Homo sapiens: one gene and its partners. The protein of the gene in region 3 purifies or fractionates together with the protein of the main gene of each other region. This does not show direct contact. Each region holds a gene or a part of one and is shown on either strand. Other genes may lie near its edges.

Evidence for each region. The genes of interacting proteins can lie anywhere in the genome.
Region 1: the proteins of HDAC11 (region 3) and MTMR3 purify together in Homo sapiens (co-immunoprecipitation; 3 studies listed by BioGRID and IntAct, with this or other methods). This does not show direct contact.
Region 2: the proteins of HDAC11 (region 3) and ATG2B purify together in Homo sapiens (co-immunoprecipitation; 4 studies listed by BioGRID and IntAct, with this or other methods). This does not show direct contact.
Region 4: the proteins of HDAC11 (region 3) and CLUH purify together in Homo sapiens (co-immunoprecipitation; 3 studies listed by BioGRID and IntAct, with this or other methods). This does not show direct contact.

Annotation. Positions count from the first base shown.
Region 1 is NC_000022.11:29,885,392-29,890,270, reverse strand, and holds part of MTMR3 (phosphatidylinositol-3,5-bisphosphate 3-phosphatase MTMR3), read right to left. Parts: intron 1-4,879. UniProt on the Homo sapiens protein: Lipid phosphatase that specifically dephosphorylates the D-3 position of phosphatidylinositol 3-phosphate and phosphatidylinositol 3,5-bisphosphate, generating phosphatidylinositol and phosphatidylinositol 5-phosphate.
Region 2 is NC_000014.9:96,314,245-96,319,123, forward strand, and holds part of ATG2B (autophagy-related protein 2 homolog B), read right to left. Parts: intron 3,612-4,879; coding exon 3,454-3,611; intron 3,074-3,453; coding exon 2,901-3,073; intron 2,440-2,900; coding exon 2,289-2,439; intron 1,340-2,288; coding exon 1,140-1,339; intron 991-1,139; coding exon 910-990; intron 1-909. UniProt on the Homo sapiens protein: Lipid transfer protein required for both autophagosome formation and regulation of lipid droplet morphology and dispersion.
Region 3 is NC_000003.12:13,489,802-13,494,680, reverse strand, and holds part of HDAC11 (histone deacetylase 11), read right to left. Parts: intron 1-4,879. UniProt on the Homo sapiens protein: Responsible for the deacetylation of lysine residues on the N-terminal part of the core histones (H2A, H2B, H3 and H4).
Region 4 is NC_000017.11:2,701,168-2,706,046, forward strand, and holds part of CLUH (clustered mitochondria protein homolog), read right to left. Parts: intron 3,398-4,879; coding exon 3,195-3,397; intron 2,323-3,194; coding exon 2,151-2,322; intron 891-2,150; coding exon 747-890; intron 571-746; coding exon 446-570; intron 354-445; coding exon 199-353; intron 99-198; coding exon 1-98. UniProt on the Homo sapiens protein: mRNA-binding protein involved in proper cytoplasmic distribution of mitochondria.

The DNA of each region.
Region 1 (4,879 bases), on a different chromosome or scaffold from region 3:
TGCTGGGATTACATGCATGAGCCACCACGCCCAGGTAATAAACCCACTTTTAAGAATTTATCCTGGGCCAGGTGCAGTGGCTCAGGCCTGTAATCCCAGCACTTTGGGAGGCGGAGGCAGGTGGATCATGAGGTCAGGAGATCGAGGCCATCCTGGTCAACATGGTGAAACCCTGTCTCTACTAAAAATACAAAAAATTAGCCGGGCGTGGTGGCATGCGCCTGTACGCCCAGCTACTCAGGAGGCTGAGGCAGGAGAATCGCTTGAACCCGGGAGGCAGAGGCTGCAGTGAGCCTAGATCGCACCACCGCACTCCAGCCTGGGCGACAAAGTGAGACTCTGTCTCAAAAAAAAAAAAAAAAAGAATTTATCCTAAGGAAATAATAAAATAATAGAACAATTCAATGCAATTCAATGTCCAAACGAGTTCATCACAGTACTGCTTTAAGAGAAAAATTGACAATATCCATTAATAACACAGAACTGCTATAAACTATGATGCATCCATATTATAAACACTAAATGCTCATTAAGGGAATATCAATTTTACAGGGAAAGTTGTTCTTTTTAAAATTATTTCAATAGATATGTATAAGAAAAAAAACAAAAATACCAAACATTACATCCAGATGGGATTACAGGTCATCTCTACTTTTTTTTTTAAAAAACACTAAAACCGTTCTGGGCCAGGTGCAGTGGCTCACGCCTGTAATCCCACCACTTTGGGAGGCGAAGGCAGGCGGATCACCTGAGGTCAGGAGTTCGAAACCAGCCTGGCCAACATGGTGAAACCCTGTCTCTACTAAAAATACAAAAATTAGCCAGGCGTGGTGGCAGGTACCTGTAATCCCAACTACTCAGGAGGCTAAGGCAGCAGAATTGCTAGAACCAGGAGGCTGAGGTTGCAGTGAGCTGAGATCACACCACTGCATTCCAGCCTGAGTGACAGAGCGAGACGCCATCTAAAAAAAAAAAAAAAAAAAAAAGTTCCGTAGCTTTCATAACCAGAAATAATTTCATTTTGAAATTTAAAATAAGATTAAGTTAAAACTCCAAATTATAGTGTCCTATATCACTTCCAAAACTCTTTATAAACACTCTGCCTTCCCATGTCATTTGTGGAATCAGTCTAAACAATTAAATATTTGGTTTATCTCATGGAAAAATGATAGGCATAGAATAAATAACAACCCTATTTCAAGTTATAACCATCTTGTCTTCATACCAATTCTTGCCAGTTATGTCATGATTTATCAATATACTTATAATTTCCTTATATTTTGCCAGATTATAAATCTATGAATAATTCTGAAAACTAAATAAATTTATATTTCTCTTCTGCAACTAAGTTATAAAAGTATTAACGACTTGGGGAGGCTGAGGCAGGGAGAATCACTTGAACCCAGGAGGCGGAGGTTACAGTGAGCCGAGATCGCGCCACTGCACTCCAGCCTGGGCAACAGAGCGAGACTCTGTCTCAAAAAAAAAAAAAAAAAAAAAAAGTATTAACTAATAAAGAAATTAGATTTCGACCCCAGGTAAGTGAAATCAGAAAAGCTTGCTATCATCTGTCATAACAGAATCATTCTGAATATCCGTAGTTATCAGCATCAAGACAATACCTCTGTGGTTAAAGTACTCCATACTCCATGTTAAGGGAAAAGAGTACTTAAGAATATTATTACAGCATAAGTTCATGTGCTTTGTTCATTAAATCAACAGTTCAGAACATAGCTATGAGGTATTTCACCACTAACAGAATAGCTTTAAGGTAACCCACCTTCACAATTTTCTTTTTGTTTTCGTTAGTTTCATGCCTTACTATTTTATAGACAGTCATTCTATCCACATTGCCCAAGTACTATGTCCCCAAACAACGACGACAAAGTTTTATCACAACCCAAAAGAAAAAAACAACCTTTTAGGCCAGGCACAGTGGCTCATGTCTACAATCCCAGCACTTTGGGAGGCCAAAGCAGGAGGACTACCTTTGAGCCCAGGAGTTCAAGACCAGCCTGGGCAACGTAGCAAAACCCTGTCTCTACAAAAAATGAAAATTATAATTTTTAAAAAGAAAAAATACATTTTACACGGCAACCAAGTATACATACATAAAAATATCTTTTAAAAAGAAACAAAAGTTTCCCAAATCTTGAACCCGGGAGGCAGAGGTTACAGTGAGCCGAGATCGTGCCACTGCACTCTAGCCTGGGCAAACAGAGCAAGATTCTGTGTCCAAAAAAAAAAACAAAACAAAACAGTATTAACTACTAAAGAAATTAGATTTAGACCCCAGATAAGTGAAATCAGAAAAGCTTGCTACCATCTGTTGTAACAGAATCATTCTGAATATCTGCAGCTATCAGCATCAAGACAATACCTCTGTGTCTATATTTACTTTTACTTTATGCAATGTACTGATATATTCTCTTTCTGAAAATGCTTTTTTAAATAAGTACATTGATTTCATTACCCTATGACACTGCCACCTGCTACTTAAAAACACAGCCTTAGAACTTTACACAGAATGTGCTGAACTCCTTGCTCCTACCACCTTCTACCACTGCTCCAACATAAGAAAATGGGTGAAATCTAGCCAAGTCTATTCCAAGTAGAGACCTTGGCATAAATGTGAGACATCCCAGGTTCCTCTGAAGTCCCTGCAACATTGTGACTATTCCGACTGGCAGACAGGATACATGTGCTGAAAGGTTTCTCCAGCCAGAGTACAGAAGCAGAAACCTTCTCTGTTGCCATATCAGTGATATTGGTAAATTCTGCACTTGACAATACAGACTAGGTTTACCACTGCTCCACAAGCCAATTCTTCAAAGACATAAAATAGGATTCTAATACAATACGATTCTAATACCAGCCCCTTACATTTTTAGAATGCTTTTCATATACACTATTGTTTGATCCACAGTCTGTTAGAAAAGTAGAAAAGTTGCTCTTCTTCCTTTCACTAATGAGGGAACTGGAGCTCAGGGGGGTTATGTAGCTTGCCAGAAACAACATGGGTAATGAAGAATAACAACCCAGGCTTGAACCCAAGATTTACTATCTACCCACTTTCATGCTACAATTTTCATTTTTAATATCTGATACAAATATGAACTTAAAAGGTATATTGTTTCTAGATACAAAAGCAAAGATGAAAGCATATCAGTATTGATATCACAAAATTAAGATTAAAAATAGCAATGACATGTTAATAATTTGGTAGCCTCTAAAGTTACTGGGAGTTCTAGTTCAATCCAGTATGAATCTGATATCATCTTATAACTTAAATCAATGTTACACTGATTATAAATTTATCTATATATTCATCATAGAAAATTACAGAATTAGGTGGTAAGAAACAGCTAGCTATATAAATTGCACAAACTCCCCCCAAACCATTCTCAAGTCTCATGACTTCACACTAAATTATGAAGTTCCCAATGTAAAACCCAATTTGATTTCAACACTAAGCCAATTACAACAGCATAAGCATGTTCTTTCTACATAACACTTGCAACATACATTCAACATCGGAAGCACTTTTGGACAATGTCTAAAATCCATAAGCTAAAAGCAGAACCCAACACAGAATCTTGTTTCTTTTAAATAATAAAAGTTCATCTACCTATATGAGATGAATACCAAATAACATAATTAGAAATGATTAAAAATTTGCAGAATCAGGCTAGAGAAACTACTTGAGGTCAAAGACTATAGGCCCTTAATTGTATATATGAGAAAACTGACGCCCAGAGAAGTTAAGTGACATTCCCAACAGCAATAAATGACACAGATGGAATCAGAATATATGTCTGTCAATCCAGAACTTCCCACTATTCTATACTACCTTTGCACTTACTGTGCTCTTAAAAAAGTAACTAACATCTGAAACACTTAAGATTCATTAAGACTCAAAAACTAGGGGACTCGATAATGTTCATGACAGTCTTTAGAAAACAATTTCTTAAAGGAATCTCAAAAATTCCAAACAATAAGCACTGAAAGCTGGCTCTTCATTTTCATTTTCTTTCCTACCCAGAGCCCTATTTGATCAAAAATTGGCTCTTTAATCCATTGCAAAATATCAGGTAGCTTTTAATAACTAACACTGCTATAAACCACCATAACTGTTCTTTTTCCCATATCAATAGTATTCACTTAATTAAAAAATATCTGAGGGCACAGAATATGCGGATAACTGCGCTGGATACTGGGGACACCAGGGAACAAAACAGACAAGGCCTCTGGCTCTTCTAATGGACAGCTGGGTGCAACTCTAAAAATACTACTCTATGATTTGACAGGATATTTACCAAAGCCCTTCACTACTCTACACAATTGTAACAACATTTTCTTCCACCTCTTCCAAACTTGTAAGAACCTTCACCACACCCCCCTCTAAAACACGAATACTTCCTTTGGTAACAGCATTCCACTTTACTGAAGAAGGTGTGAACGTGTTAACTAGAACTACAGCAGATTTTTAAACTGACTTTACCACTCCTCATGGCCTGCGGCAAATCTCAAGAACTTTTCACAATACATAGTAACCCTTCCTGGTTCACAACCCGGGTCTCAAATGATTGCTAACACACCCATCCTACCCTCCACTAGAAATCTGAGTCAGATGGTTTAGGAGCAACCATAATGGTGGGAAGCATCTTCAGTGGACCCCTTTATGAGCCAGAAGCCGACTTACTCCCTCTCCTTCTCTGTTTATTTCCTCTGGATCCTTCAATATATCTCTGGATACAGTATATCTCCAATTAATCAGCATCTAATTTTATCAAGTGTGTTCCTAATAACTTGTTTGCAAATTAACTTTTGGCAACAAATCTGTTTCCCCTACATAAATCCATTATATTTTAAGAGATGC
Region 2 (4,879 bases), on a different chromosome or scaffold from region 3:
ACAATTAAGAAGTTCTCCTTTATAAGAAACATGAGAAGCAATCATAGTGCACTAGTTTTCATTCTCACATAAGGAAAAGCTAACTTCTTACTCAAAGTCTCCTCTGAAAAATAACCAATTGTATTTTATTACCATAAAAAGTTGTTGAACTGGAAATTAATGAGAGAAATCCTGATAAAATGCTTTAAAGCAACATCATATTATTGGCCTAGGGAATTATATGGAAATATTGCACTTAAAGAACTTCTGATTATAAAAGCAATTCAACACACCATTCACTGCTCCTCTACGCCAGACATTCTACAAGTCCTGGGATACAGAGTCCCTTCCCTTCCTTTAATGACATATAAGATAACTCTGTCATTGAGAGGTTTTGAGGACCACACTTTAAGGTAAAAAACCAATTACATTCTGAGGTGATAATACTGTTTTGTTTTGTTTTGTTTTGTTTTGTTTTGTTTTGTTTTGTTTTTTGAGACAGAGCTTCGCTCTTGTCGCCAGACTGGAGTGCAGTGGCACGATCTCAGCTCACTGCAACCTCCGCCTCCCGGGTTCAAGCGATTCTCCTGCCTCAGCCTCTCCAGTAGCTGGGATTACAGGTGCATTCCACCACGCCCAGCTAATTTTTGTATTTTTAGTAGAGACGGGATTGACCAAGCTGGGCTCGAACTCCTGACCTCAGGTGATCCACCTGCCTTGGCTTCCCAAAGTGCTGGGATTACAGGCATGAGCCACCGTGCCCGGCCAATACTGTTCTATTTCTTAACCTAAAAGGTGGTGACACCGTAGTATTCACTTAATGATAATTCACTGAGCTGAACATTTATGACTTACAAACTTTTCAGTATGTGTATTAGATGTCAACACAAATTTTTAAATAAATTAATACATATATAACAGCTCTCTTACCTGCTCATGCCAGCTAAGCCCAGAAGGAAGCATTCTATGCTGGAGAGTGGCTCCTTTCAGTCCTACGGCAATGAGAAATTCCTATACAGAACAAGACAAAGAATGACATTTACCACCTATGTAATCCTATAACTCAAAAGTTTTTCCAAGAAAATAAATATGTTGCCTTTTATGTAATTATTTTTAGCTAGAATCAAATCAACAGTGGCATAAAAGTACAAAACACAAACCTTTGTATTGGACTCTGATTTATCAGACAATATTTTAACGGCAACAGACAGCATATTCAAACTGTCTCCTCCAACTCCATCTGAAGAAGTTTTACTGAGGCCATCTTCTTCAGAGGAATAAATAGTAGGTTCCAACCAGTGTGGGCGGGTTGAGCTGGGAAGTCGTGTTTCTGTCGGGAGAATCACTCCATTCACTATGCCTAGAGATCCACATTGAGGTAAAAATAGTAACAAAATGATTACTTGAAATTAGCTAATCAACTTACATGACTCAAAACAAAAATCCACGTACTTCCACTGAATATAACTTAAGGAGGCATGATGACAAAAACCAGCATGGCATTAATAATCCACTCCTCTTTGCTAATGTTAGTGTGACTGACCGTACACAGCTTAAAGAAACAAAAGATTCTGAAATGCTAGGAAAATTAAATAGAAAACTATCACAAACATCTCATGTCTATGAAACAAGGTAAACTCAGGTAACTGCTCAAAAAATGGTAGGTTCTATATCTGGAACCAAAAGGAAATATTCCTTAAAGAAGAATAAAGAACATATAGTCCCATCGACTGATGAATGGATACATAAGATGTGATCTATCTTTACAGTGGAATATTATTTGGCAATAAAAAGGAATGAAGTACAGATACAACTTGGATGAACTTTGAAAGCGTGTCAAATGAAAGAAGCCAGTCAAAAAGGCCAAATATTGTATGATTCCATTTATAAGAAACTTCTGAATATGCAAATCCATAGAAACAGAGTGTAGGTTAGTGTGTTTACGGGAAGGAGAGAGCGGAAGGGGTGAAAGTTTATCACTAAAGTGTATGAAATTTCTTCATGGGGTAATAAACATGTTTTAAAATTGACTATGGTGACGGTTGCATAACTCTTGTGAAATACTAAAAACCACTGAAAGGTACACTTTAAATGAGTATGGTGTGTGAATTATACCTCAACAAAGCTATTGCAAAAAAAGAACCTGAAGTTGACTTCTAATTTGTAAATATTACTTTGACAGCAGAATGAGAGCCCTCCACAGAAAATAATTTCTAATACCAAAGTTCTGTTCTCAATAGATTTTCTTTGTTAAACAAGAAATTTAAACATGTCTAAAGAGAAGAAACCAAGACACGTGTTTGTCCTACCTTTATGGTACAGACTGAAACTGCTAGAATGAAGGCAAATGTAGTGCTTGTCATCAAAACCTTCATATTTTGTCACACAAAATAATGAACCACTATTGAACTCTAACCAGAATTCACCATGCTTGTTTTCCAACAGATCTCCATTATCTTGCTAGTAAAAAGATCAGAAAAACACAGAAGTTATTACTTAAATGCAGAAAAGTAAGCATGTTCCTTGAGATGCTCTTTGTTGATTCAGCTTAGGAAAATCTCCCATACTGCAGCAAAGCAGTCTAATCCTTGAACTATTCAATATCATGGTATAAAATAAAACTGGATAACTTAAATGCTATGTGGAACCTCTTCTATCAGATGAATCTCTGTACTTTGTTGTCACCCCAGAAGCAGAATTAGCACCTGTTTTCCAAAGGGAGAGCCCCACAAAGTTTGATCTGCAACGAAAGCTAAATCCCCAAAGTTGCTATCATCATGGTTTGCCCCAGGACACTGGTCTTCATCAGTCCCTGAAACAACTTCAAAATATCAAATACTTCAATCACTAGATATGTATCCTAGCAGATTTATTTAAAGTAAGATACATTTGAAAAAACACTTCGGATTTGTAAACCTCACCTTCACATCTGTGAACACTGCTATTAATCCATGATTAATATTCAGAAGAACTGAGAGAAAACTCTGAGAGTTCTTGTTCTGAGAGTCTAATTTTTTTTTCCTGCGAGAACGATAGTTGGGATCAACAGTGGAAAAATACTGCAAAGTCTCCTCCTCAGATCCACTTTCCTCATCTATGAGAAATAAACATACAATTACATTCTGATAGCATATTAAAACAGCAACATAAAAATGATCATGAAAATATTTTATATAACCTGCTTAGTTTTACAAAGAATATGGTGTGAACACAGAAATACATACTGTTTTTCTCTTTAGCTTTGAACTTCAAACAATGTGCACACTATCATTCTAAAGAGAACATATTTAAGTGATAATGATATTCTCAATATACAGATAGAAATAAGGAAATATTCTTATAAATTACTAAAAGAAATTGCAAAATATAGTTACAATGAAACATAAAGATTTTTAAATCCACAATTCAAAGGTTAGTACTTTGTTAATTGATAAACTAGGCATTTTAAATCAAAACAAATTAAAAATATATTACCATAGTGAACTGCAGATTTAAATGCACTAAAACTATCTTTGTTGAAAGTATTAATGAGCTGACTGGCTACTGAAAGCCCAATGCCATAGGAAATATTCTCGAATGTCTCCACTGGTGAAGGAGCTGTTGGTTCCCACAGTAGCAAGTCATTAAAGATCCTATAAAGACAAAAGTTGAAAAATAAGTACTTAACTCCTAGTTCAACAGAAGGCAAACTTAAAAAAAAATCCTTTTAAAAGATCGTATGAACAATAATTTTTTAAACGGCAAAATGGAAATTAGATCCTACAAGAATTTGGAAAAACAACAAAAATAACAACTGCATTCTTTCAATGAAAAAATAACTGATATGGCTATAATGCAGGGCAGTGACAAAAGAATCTGCACAATTAGATACCTAAATAGATACTTGCCTAATTTTACCTATGTTATATACATCAAATTACAAATTCATATTACATTTCAAAATATACCTTAGAAACAGAAGCTCATGAAAAATAAAAACCCACAAAGAACAGAAAAGGAGGACGGCTCACCTATATGAGAGCACTTTGTAAACTGGAACTGATCCTGCATCATCTCACTGACCCTCCCCTCAGTCCTGTGGGGTGTCCAGGGCAGAATCATTATTCTCACTTTACACCTGAAGAAACTGTCTCATAAAGGTTATGTGACCTTCCCAAAGTCACATGGCTAATTAGTGGAAAAATGGGGATGAAAGTCCAGATTATGTAGATTACATCCAGCTCCCAATTCAGTTCTTTTTTTAAGGCAAGTATTTATCTGTGGGATCAATTCAGTTCTTTCCCTAGAAATACCTGATTTTTCTCTCATCAGCAACAGAAAGCACAGCTTCACTGGGAAGACTTCATGAGATGAAGAATGCATATGGAGCAAAAAATAAGGAGAGAAAAACCCTTATGACTAGCGAGACTAGCCCAATCAATACTGGCAACCAATGGGAAGGCATATGTCATACCTAGGCTGTCACCACATCCTACTTTTTCAAAGAACTACCTGTCACTGCTCAGATGCCCCTGTCCTAGCCTCCTCCCCTCATCCATCCTCGAAGTTTTCAAGAAAACTCAAACTTCACCACGTCTTCTAGTAAACCCATCGTAAGATCTGGACCCACAGCATATGCTTCACACAGACCCACTTAAATCACAGCACCTACAGCACCCTCCTGAATTTTCTCGTTTCCCCTTTTTAGACTGCAAGCCGCCCAAGAGAGGGACTTGTGTCGATCATCTCTACATGTGCCTAGCACAGTGGCTGTCACATAACAGGCACGGACAGTTGGTGAGGACAGTGAATGATTCACATGGAAGTGCTGCCAAAACCCAGACTCATCGTAAAGCCTGGTGTGAATACCGGTCAAGGCGCCGCGTGGTGAGGCAGCCCTGCCCCCTTCTGTGAGAAGCCA
Region 3 (4,879 bases):
CAGTGAGCAGGGTCCCACTCATGGTCGGGAAGGAGAGGTGCCCACGGGGCACCACTTCCACAAGCCCAGGCCCTCTGGCGGTAACATGGAGGCATCACAGGGCCTGGGAAGGGGTGGGAGTGTAAGAGCTGGGACCAGCACAGCCAGACAGCTGCAGGACACACCCATGAGTGTATGTATGTGTGTGTATGTGTCTTGTGTATACATGTGTGCACAGGTATGTCCGTGTGCGTGTGTGCGTGTGTGTATGTTGCGGGACAGACCCAGAGAAAGGAAGGTCCCTGCCTGAGGTCATCAGCTCCTCTTGTTCACCACACTCATCCCACTGCCCGGCAGAGGCCCCGCGTGTGGCTGGCATGGAACCATGGTTTTCCATGAACGAATGAGCAAACAAACGAGCCGCTGAAGGAGCACATGGAGTCACAGCCTCCCTCCCTCCCTGGGAAGCCAGCAGGGGACACAGACTGGAAGACAATGCAGCCGAGAGCCCAGCATGGACACAAACCACGAGAAAGGCATTCTCTCGTGTGCTCCACAGCCACGGGTCTCGCACAGCACTCCTCAAGGAGGCTTCCACCGGCAAGTCGTTTGGGAAGCATGGCTTATGCCGCCTGCCTCCTGGAGATTTGCAGCACATCCTAGCATGCTAAAGGCTCTGAGAAGTTCTGCAGCAAATATTCCATTCTAACTTTGCTCCCCCCAGATGTCAGAAGATCTGCCTGCCCTCTTTGCCTTTTAAGTCACACACACTAACCTTCTGCAAAACTGCAGTGGCATGGGACACACTTGGGAACCTCAAAGAGGTTCCTTGGTATCCTCCACAGATTGGACCTGACCTGGTGCAGGGGCCAGGTGCAGCCACCCAGGAGCATGCACGGGACTTGGCCAGCAGGACCAGCCCCCACAGGAGAAAGTATGTGTGTTTGCTGTGCCAACGTTGGCGAGACGAGCCCCTCAGCGGAGCAGCAGGCTTCGGGCAGTGAAGAGGAGGCTGGCACTTGGGCCTTCTCCTGGTGCAGCAGTGGTTTCTGCACAAGGCAGTGATGTGGTTGCCAACACCCTAGACCAGCACCATCCAATCCAGTGGCTGCCAGCCACAGGTGGCTACTTACGAGTGATTGTAAATTCATCAAAATTTTAAAAATTCAAGTTTGGTTCCTCAGTTACACTCTCCATATTTCAAGAGCCACATGCGGCCAGTGGCGACTGGACTGCACAGAGCAGGTCTGAGCATTTCCATCATTGCAGAAGGTTCCACAGGGCAGCACCGCTCTAGGAGAAACCACCCATCAGTGGCCAAGGTGAGAAATAAACAGAGTGGGTGGGGCGGACTAGTGGCGGGTCCCTGGGTGAGGGGAGGAGAGGGAAGAGGGCCTGGGCTAGAGCAGGCTCTATGTGGTCAGAGGAGGTGGCAGGTAGGAGGAGCTCAGGGCACCACCAGGTGACATCTGGAGATTCACTTTCTGACCAACACTTCCAGGGATAGCCCCCGAGGGAGCTGTGGGTGGGGCAGGTGGGGGGTGCTGCACTGCTGACAGATACCTTCTCTGGGACATGCAGCATGCCACGGTGGGACTGCCCAGATCCAGCAGGTCAGGCTCCCTGATAGTCTCGCCCTGGGCAAGGGCACTGTGGGTGAGGCTAGGACTGGGGTGGACAGGCTCAGAAGTTCCCCAAACTGGTCCAAGTCTGGGTTCTGCCACTGGCTATGTGAATTTAGAATTCACTTCTCTGTGCCTCTGTCTCATCTATAAAACAAGGCTTTGGATGAGGACTTAGAGGTGGAAACCAGTCAGAGAGGCCTGTCCTCCTCATCTAATCTAAAATCCCCACACCCAGCCAGGCTTGGTGGCTTACATCTGTAATCCCAGAACTTTGGGAGGCTGAGGTAGGCGGATTACTTGAGGTCCAGAGTTCACGACCAGCCTGGCCAACATGGTGAAATCTGGTGTCCATTAAAAACACAAAAATTAGCCGGGCATGGTGGCAGGTGCCTGTAATCCCAGCTACTCAGGAGGCGAGGGAGGAGAATCTCTTCAACCCAAGGGGTGGAGGTTGCAGTGAGCCAAGATCGCACCACTGCACTCCAGCCTGGGTGACAGAGTGAAACTCTGTCTCAAAAAAATAAAATAAAATACTCCCACCTGGGGCCCCCTGGAGCCCACACCTTGGCTTCATCTTCCCAGATAGCACTTCTCTCCCTGAGGCTACAGACTGTCCCGATTAGCATCTATCTCCCTCAAAAGGATGCCAGCTCCAGGAGGACAGCACGCGTCTGCTCACTGCTGTGCAGACAGTGCTGAGGCCATGCCTGGCACACAGTAGGTGCTGGCCATGCATGCCGTTGATCCCCTTTTCTGGCTGGTGCACCAGAGCCCTTCTCCTGACAGAAGCCACCTCACCTGCATCATCCCAGGAGAGCCATGACTGACAAGGGCCTGTAACAGCCAGGCCACATGCTTCTGGGCAGGGCAACCCTGTGGTGACATTCACGCCCCAGAGATCTCCATGGAATCAGGCTGAGGCCACACTTCCAAATCCACATCTGTGCTCAGCTGCTCACTCTGCCCGCTCCCCACTGCCTGTGCCTCTTGCAGGGTTCATCTGAAATCGCCTGCACCATCTCAGACTCTGCTTCTAGGGATGTGGTTCTCAGACCAGCAGCATCCACAACACTTGAGAATGTATTAGAAATGCAGATTCCCAGTCTCTACCCAAGACAACATGGATCAGAAACTCTGGGAGGGGCCCAGCCATCTGCTGGAACAAGCCCTCCAGTGTTTCAGATACTTGCTGGGGTTTAAGAGCCACCATTCTAGGGAGCCCAACCTAAGGCAGTGCTGGGTGAATGAGCACACTATGTGAGCATGGGAGGTCTGCCCCAGACTGACGCCACCACCCGCCAAAGGGCATGGCCTGCATGTAGCCAGCTATCAGGGCCCCCATACCTCGTCAGCCTCTGTGGGACTCCACAGAGAGCAGGACATGACTGGGGCTGGCCATATCTCTGGGACCTACTGCCCCATCTACTCAGCTCCACAAGCCTTCACCTTCCAGACACCTGGTTTCCTCAGGCGGACCCGCTGCCCTCAGGTTCAAACCAAGAACTGCTCTCAGGGAAGAGCTAGGCTGTAACCCCTCTAGGGCGCCCACTGCTTGCTTTAGGTGGGTCCTTTCTACCAGTAGAAGGGGAGCAAAAGCAGAGAAGGGGAAAACACGATCTCTCAGTTGATGCACAAAAAGCCTTTGACAAAATTCAATAGCCTTTTGTGATAAAATCACTCAACAAACTAGGAACAGAAGGGAACTCCCTCAACATGATAAAAGGCGTTAAAAAATTTAACCCCACAGCTGACATTATACTCAATGGTAAAATATTGAAAGCCCTCTGTCTAAGATCAGGAACAAGACAAAGATGCCTGCTCCACTACTGCTATTTAACATAGTACTGGAAGTTCCAATCAGAGGAATTAGGCAAGAAAAATAAATAAAAGCCATCCAAATTGGAAAGGAAGCTACCTCTCTTCACAGACGGTATGATGTTATATATAGAGGATCCTAAAGAATACACACACACACACACACACACACACACACACACACACACACACAACTATTAAAGCTAAGAAACAGGCCAGGCGCAGTGGCTCATGCCTGTAATACCAGCACTTTGAGAGGCCGAGGTGGGCAGATCACGAGGTCAAGAGATCGAGACCACACTGGCCAACATGGCGAAACCCCATCTCTACTAAAAATACAAAAATTAGCTGGGCATGGTGGCATGCACCTGCAGTCCCAGCTACTTGGGAGGCTGAGGCAGAAAAATCGCTTGAACCTGGGAGGCGGAGGTTGCAGTGAGCCGAGATCATGCCACTGCACTCCAGCCTGGTAACAGAGAGAGACTCTGTCTAAAAAAAAAAAAAAAAAAAAAAAAAAGAAAAAAATGCTAAGAAACAAATTCAGCAAAGTTGTAGGATACAAGATCAACACAAAAAAATCAGTTGTATTTCTATACAACTGATTATTGTATATACCAGCAATGAACAATCTTAAAAGGAAATTCAAACAATTTCATTTATAATAACATCGAAAAGAATAAAATGCATGGGAATAGATTTAACCAAGAGGTGCAAGATTTGTCCATTGAAAGCTACAAAACATTGCTGAAAGAAATTAAAGACATAAATAAACGGAAAGACATCCCATGTTCATGGATTGAAAGACCGAATATTGTTAAGATGGCAAAACTCCCCAAAGCAATTTACTCAATGCAATTCCTGTCAAAATCCCAATGGCCTTTTTTGCAAAAAATGGAAGTTGATGCTATAATTCACATGGAATCTCAAGGGACCTCAAACAGCCAAAACGATCTTAAAAAAGAACAAAGTTGGCTGGGCACGGTGGCTCATGCCTGTAATCCCAGCACTTTGGGAGGCAGAGGCAGGCAGATCATGAGGTCAGGAGTTTGAGACCAACCTGACCAACATGGTGAGACCTCATCTCTACTAAAAATAGAAAAATTAGCTAGGCGTGGTGCCGGGCGCCTGTAATCCCAGCTACTCGGGAGGCTGAGGCAGGAGAATCACCTGAAACCAGAAGGCGGAGGTTGCAGTGAGCCGAGATCGCGCCATTGCACTCCAGCATAGGCGACAAAGCGAGACTGCGTCTCAAAAAAAAAAAAAGAACAAAGTTGGAGGCCTCACAATCTGGAATTTCAAAATTTGCTCCAAAGCCACAATAACCACAGTAAGCCACAGTAACAGTACCAAAATAGTGTGGTATTGACATATAGATCAAATGAATAGAATTGGCTGGGCGCAGTGGCTCACACATGCCTGTAATCCCAGTACTTTGAGAGGCCGAGGTGAGCAAATCACTT
Region 4 (4,879 bases), on a different chromosome or scaffold from region 3:
TCTTGAAGGTCGGGCTGATCTGGTTGAGCAGCTCCACTAGGGAATGGCTTAGGAAGCGGGGGCTGGCGGGCTTGGGGTTGAAGTGATAAGCTGTGGACCTGCAGGGAGAGGGCGGGCACTGAGCGGGGGCCCAGGTGTCTGCCCAGACCCAGGACGGCTGGCACGGCAGGGGGGTGTGGTGGGCTGGCAGGGACTCACTGATTCAGGTAAAAGCCCCGTGTGGACGCGGTGATGCTGACTTGCCGGTCCTCGGCTGTGATCACAAACAGGTACATGAGGTCCCCGTGCATCTTCCGGTTCCCCGGGGGCGGGTTCCATCCGCTCATGGTGAGTACTTTCAGGCACTGCAAGGGCTTCGGGAGCGGCCGAGTCTGAGGGGCCAGGCCTCTGGTGTGGGGCCTCCACCCCGCCAGGGACCCTCTTCCTCCCTCCCCCAGGATCCTACCTTCCAGTCACGGTTTTGGGGCTGCAGGGGACACAGTGGCCGCTCCCGGCTCCCTGGCAGGATGTACTCGGGTGGTGTGCAGTCGATGGGGTCCATCTCCAAGCCCTTCTTCCGCTTCCCGCTGTCTGAGGGACCCGAGGCTGGTGGTCAGCACAGGGCCACCCAGGGCCAGCTGTCTCCCTACCTCCTGATGGCCGTGGTCCGGGTGCCTCAGGCCCAGGCCCCTCGGCCCCTTCTCCAGCCCCCCACCTCCGTGCTCCCCGCCCTTTGGCCCAATCCCCGGCCCCAGTGCCTCCCGCACCTCCCAGGTCGCCGTCGGTGAAGACACTCAGGAAGGACAAGGAGTTGCAGTCAACCCCGTTGAAGGCATCGGATGGGTCCAGGCTCTTGAGCAGGTCTCGGACATGGCGCACGTGGATGCGGGCCTCACGCACCGTGTACGGCTCTGTCAGGAAGGCAGGGAGGGTATGGCGTTACCAGGGCCCTGCACCCTGAACAACCTGCCCAGCACAAAACAGGTTTTGGAGGTGCTAACACAGTGGTTTTAATTTTCAACTTTAGGTTTCCGTTTTCAAATTCCACTGTGAACACATAAGCTGGAGTTCTGGTTTTGACACCACAAACACACACACACACACACTCTGCCTACTGGTGAGCAGGGATCTTTGTTTATAAAGAACTTTCTGCCAAATGCCTCTGAAGCACACACAGGCCTCAGGCGTCCACAAGGCTGCCTGCTTTTGTGCGCCAGTGTGTCGGCTGGGCAGGGCTTTTGGAGCTGTGGGACTTCCACACCACAGCCTTGCCCTGCTCTCCCGAGGCAGCCTCATGTAGGGGTGGCCTGAGGACTTTCCAAGGCCCCCAATGTCAACACTGCCCCTATGTGGTTTCATGGGATTTTAATGGCAGTTCTTTTGGTGGAGGGGAGAGGTTCCGTGATCAACTGTGGGCGCTGTTGAGCTACAGACCTTTTCCGTCACTGCTCTCAACAGGCGGACAGGCCCTGGGGTGGAACCCAAGCAGCTTCTACCCAGAAAACTCGAGGCCACAGACCAACCGGATGGCACCTCCCCGTGCCCGACCTCCCCACTCTAGGGCTAGGAAACGTTTGGGACTTCTCATGGATCTCTACAGAACTGAACTGCGCTGACTTCACGCCCTGGGATGGTACTGCCTGATTTTTTTTTTTTAGAATCACGGCTCTGTTCTTTTGTTTTGTTTTTTTTTTTGAGACGGAGTTTCGTTCTTGTTGCCCATGCTGGAGTGCAGTGGCACGATCCGGGCACACTGCAACCTCTGCCTCCCAGGTTCAAGTGATTCTCCTGCCTCAGCCTCCCGAGTAGCTGGGATTACAGGCACCTGCCACCACGCGCAGCTAACTTTTTGTATTTTTAGTAGAGATGGGGTTTCACCATGTTGGCCAGGCAAGTCTCCAACTCCTGACCTCAGGTGATCCACACGCCTTGGCCTCCCAAAGTGTTGGGATTACAGGCGTGAGCCACCATGCCCAGCCCACGGCTCTGTTCTTTAACCCATGGGCCGTGAAGTTGGCAGATATAGGTGTGCTGGCCTGAGAAGCAGATCTGTGCTCCAATCCTGCCTCCATGAGCTCATCCGTGACACAGGGACCCTGGCATGGATGGTGCTGCCTGCCTCTGCCTCCGTGGGCCCTCCCCCGGGCAGGCTGTCCAACTTCCAGACCAACCTTCCACCACACGCAGCACAGAGCCCTCCTGCAGCCCCTCGACGCTGCGCAGCTCCGAGAAGTGGTCCAGCACGTTGCCATCCAGGTGCAGTGAGAAGCAGGTGCGGTGACACGTGTCCTCCCGGTCCATGAGCACCTGGTGAATCTCCTGCACCATCTCCTGGGGGGACACCTGCAGGGAGAAGGCCCCGCCCACCCCGGTGAGAGAGCACGTAGCGGGGAGAGAAGGCCCCAACCGCCCCGGTGAGAGGCCACGTAGCGGACAGCAAGGACAATATCCCCTTGTCCCCAGCCCAAAGTACCTTGGTCCCCAGAATAAATGCCCCAAATACTCGAATATCGGCTATCCCACTTTCTGGCTTTTAAATCCAGGCCATGTCCACACATGCCATGCCCTGTGTGTGCAGCCTGGAGCCTGGCCCACCGACTCGGCCTGCAGACCCAGAGCAATGCCCGAGCAGAGAAGGGAGATGAAGAACAGCGGGACAGAAGACGGCAGGCTCGCCCCCGGCCTTGCCCAGTGCTAAGGTGCCTGGGGCAAATGGCTTTCCCCTTCCAGAAGGGGTGCTCTGGGGCCCAAGCCTGCGGGTGCCGAGACATACGACGACCCTGTCTCGTTCCCCACTGAGTCACCGGCTTGCAAGACCTCCACGCTGGCTCTGCCCTTGGAGATAACCCAATACTACCCTCCCCTCTGGCAGATGGTAAAATCACGGCCCAGAGAGAGGTGACTTGCCTGAGGGCACAGAGCAAGAGGCTGGGGAGTCCTGGGATGCCAACACTTCCCAGCCACTATCACTCCCCTCCCCACATAGGGCTGGCAGGCCCAGCTGGTTGCTGTCCTCTAGCAATGGGGCAACGACCTGACCCTGGGCTCGATTCCCACGTCCACCACGCTAGCTGAGTGACTCTAGGGAGGGCACGGGATCCTCAGTTTCCTGCCACAAAATGGGGCCGGTAGGAGCACGAGCAAGGCTGAGCTTTCCAGCTCACCCTCCCCAGCAGGCTCAGGCCTGGCCCCCAGCACCCGTTCCTCCATCTTACCTGCAGGGAGAAGGGCTCGATCCCAGGGGCGAGGATCTTCACAGAAAAGCCCGTGTCCTGAATGACAATGACTTCCTGGCCGGTGGTCTCATCTCCCGGGCCGGCCTCGTCAAGCCCATTTTCCCTGGGTGGCTCGGCCGCCGCCGCCTCCTTCTTCAGGCTCTCTGGGCAGTCCCCGTTTAAGAGCATGACTGATGGCAGCTCTGCGGGTGACAAGAACGGGTCAGAATCAGGCAGCCTCGCTGGTCGGCGGGGCTGTCCGCCTGACCCCACACGGGGACACGTGCCTTCTGGAAAGGCATCTGCATGCCCTCGAGAGTCCCAGCCTCACGGTCGCGCCTCGCCCTCCGTGCACCTGCAGGCCACTTCCACACCCAGCCGCCCCTCCCAGCCACTGTTCCCTGGCCCACTGTGGTATGGCTTGCACCTGAACCCATGTCCCAAACCACTCTCCCCAGGGTCACCAAAGCCACCCTTCAAGCCAAGCCCGAGGGTCTCCTCCGGCCCTAACACACCTAGCTTCCCAGCAGCAGTTCCCCTCTTCCTCTCCTCTTCTCTGACCCCACACAGTGCCCTTGCCCCTCCCTCTCCAGCTCCATCCTCTTCCATCCCTCCTGAGCTGTGGTCCTGGGCTGCAGGGGGGCTGCAGGGGAGTGCCTAGGCCCAGCCTCTCCTGTTTCTGACCCCACCCCCTCCCATACACTCCTGCCCCGTGGCTCACACGGCCAATCCTGTCCTCTCTCCAGCCTTTTGGACCAAGGAGACCGCTGCCTCCCAGGCATCAACATGTGGCTGTCCCTGAGGCATCACTGAAGCCTCGTCTTGCAGGGACAGAACTCATCTTCCTCCTCAAACTGGCACCTGCTCTATCTAGTCACCCACCCTAAATCTCCCAACCCACCCACGGGACCCGGCCTCTGCAGCCACTGCCCTAGGGCAGGCATTTCCTCTATTTCAGCAGTGCCACCTGCAACCCTCCTAGGAAGCCCACTGCTTACAAGACCAAGCTTCTCAGGCCAGCGCTCTCAGGCACCCACCTGAAGTCAGCCTCAGCTCCTGCCTGCTCCCTGCTGAGGTCTAAGGACACCACACCATGCAAGCCTGGTACCGCCCACAGCCCTCCCACCGCCCTCCCACCGCTGTGCTTCTGTGTCTGTGCTGCCCCTGACATCCCATTCTGTACAGCAAACACTGACTCACCCTTCAAGGCCTAGGAGAAATAAACCTTTTCCACAGCCTGCCCAAATGACCCTTAATGGCAGAATCACACTCCCTCCCCCTTTCATTCCCAGAGACATTCGGCTGCACCCAGGGTGGCGTCCTCACCAGCAGCTCTACCCACCACCTTCTATCTTGCCCAGGCTCAACAAAAAAGGCAACAAATAAAGTACTTACTGCAAACCTCTAGCTACATCCAATATTTGAAGACAGCACCCAATCCACATGCTCCAGGGTGGGGAGCAGGTGACAAAACCTTGCATTCCTACCCAGGCACCAGTGGAACAAAGGAGAACCCCCTGTTCCGCTGAGGAGCCAAGGATCGCCTCTCAGTAACCCTCCAGCAGACACGGGCCTGCCTGGGCACCCATCTAGGAGATGAGGACCTTGGCCCCCAGGATCTGTCCATGGGCCAGGCTCACCTGCCTGGCTTGGCTTGAAGTTCAACGGTCCCAACTCTGAGGAGT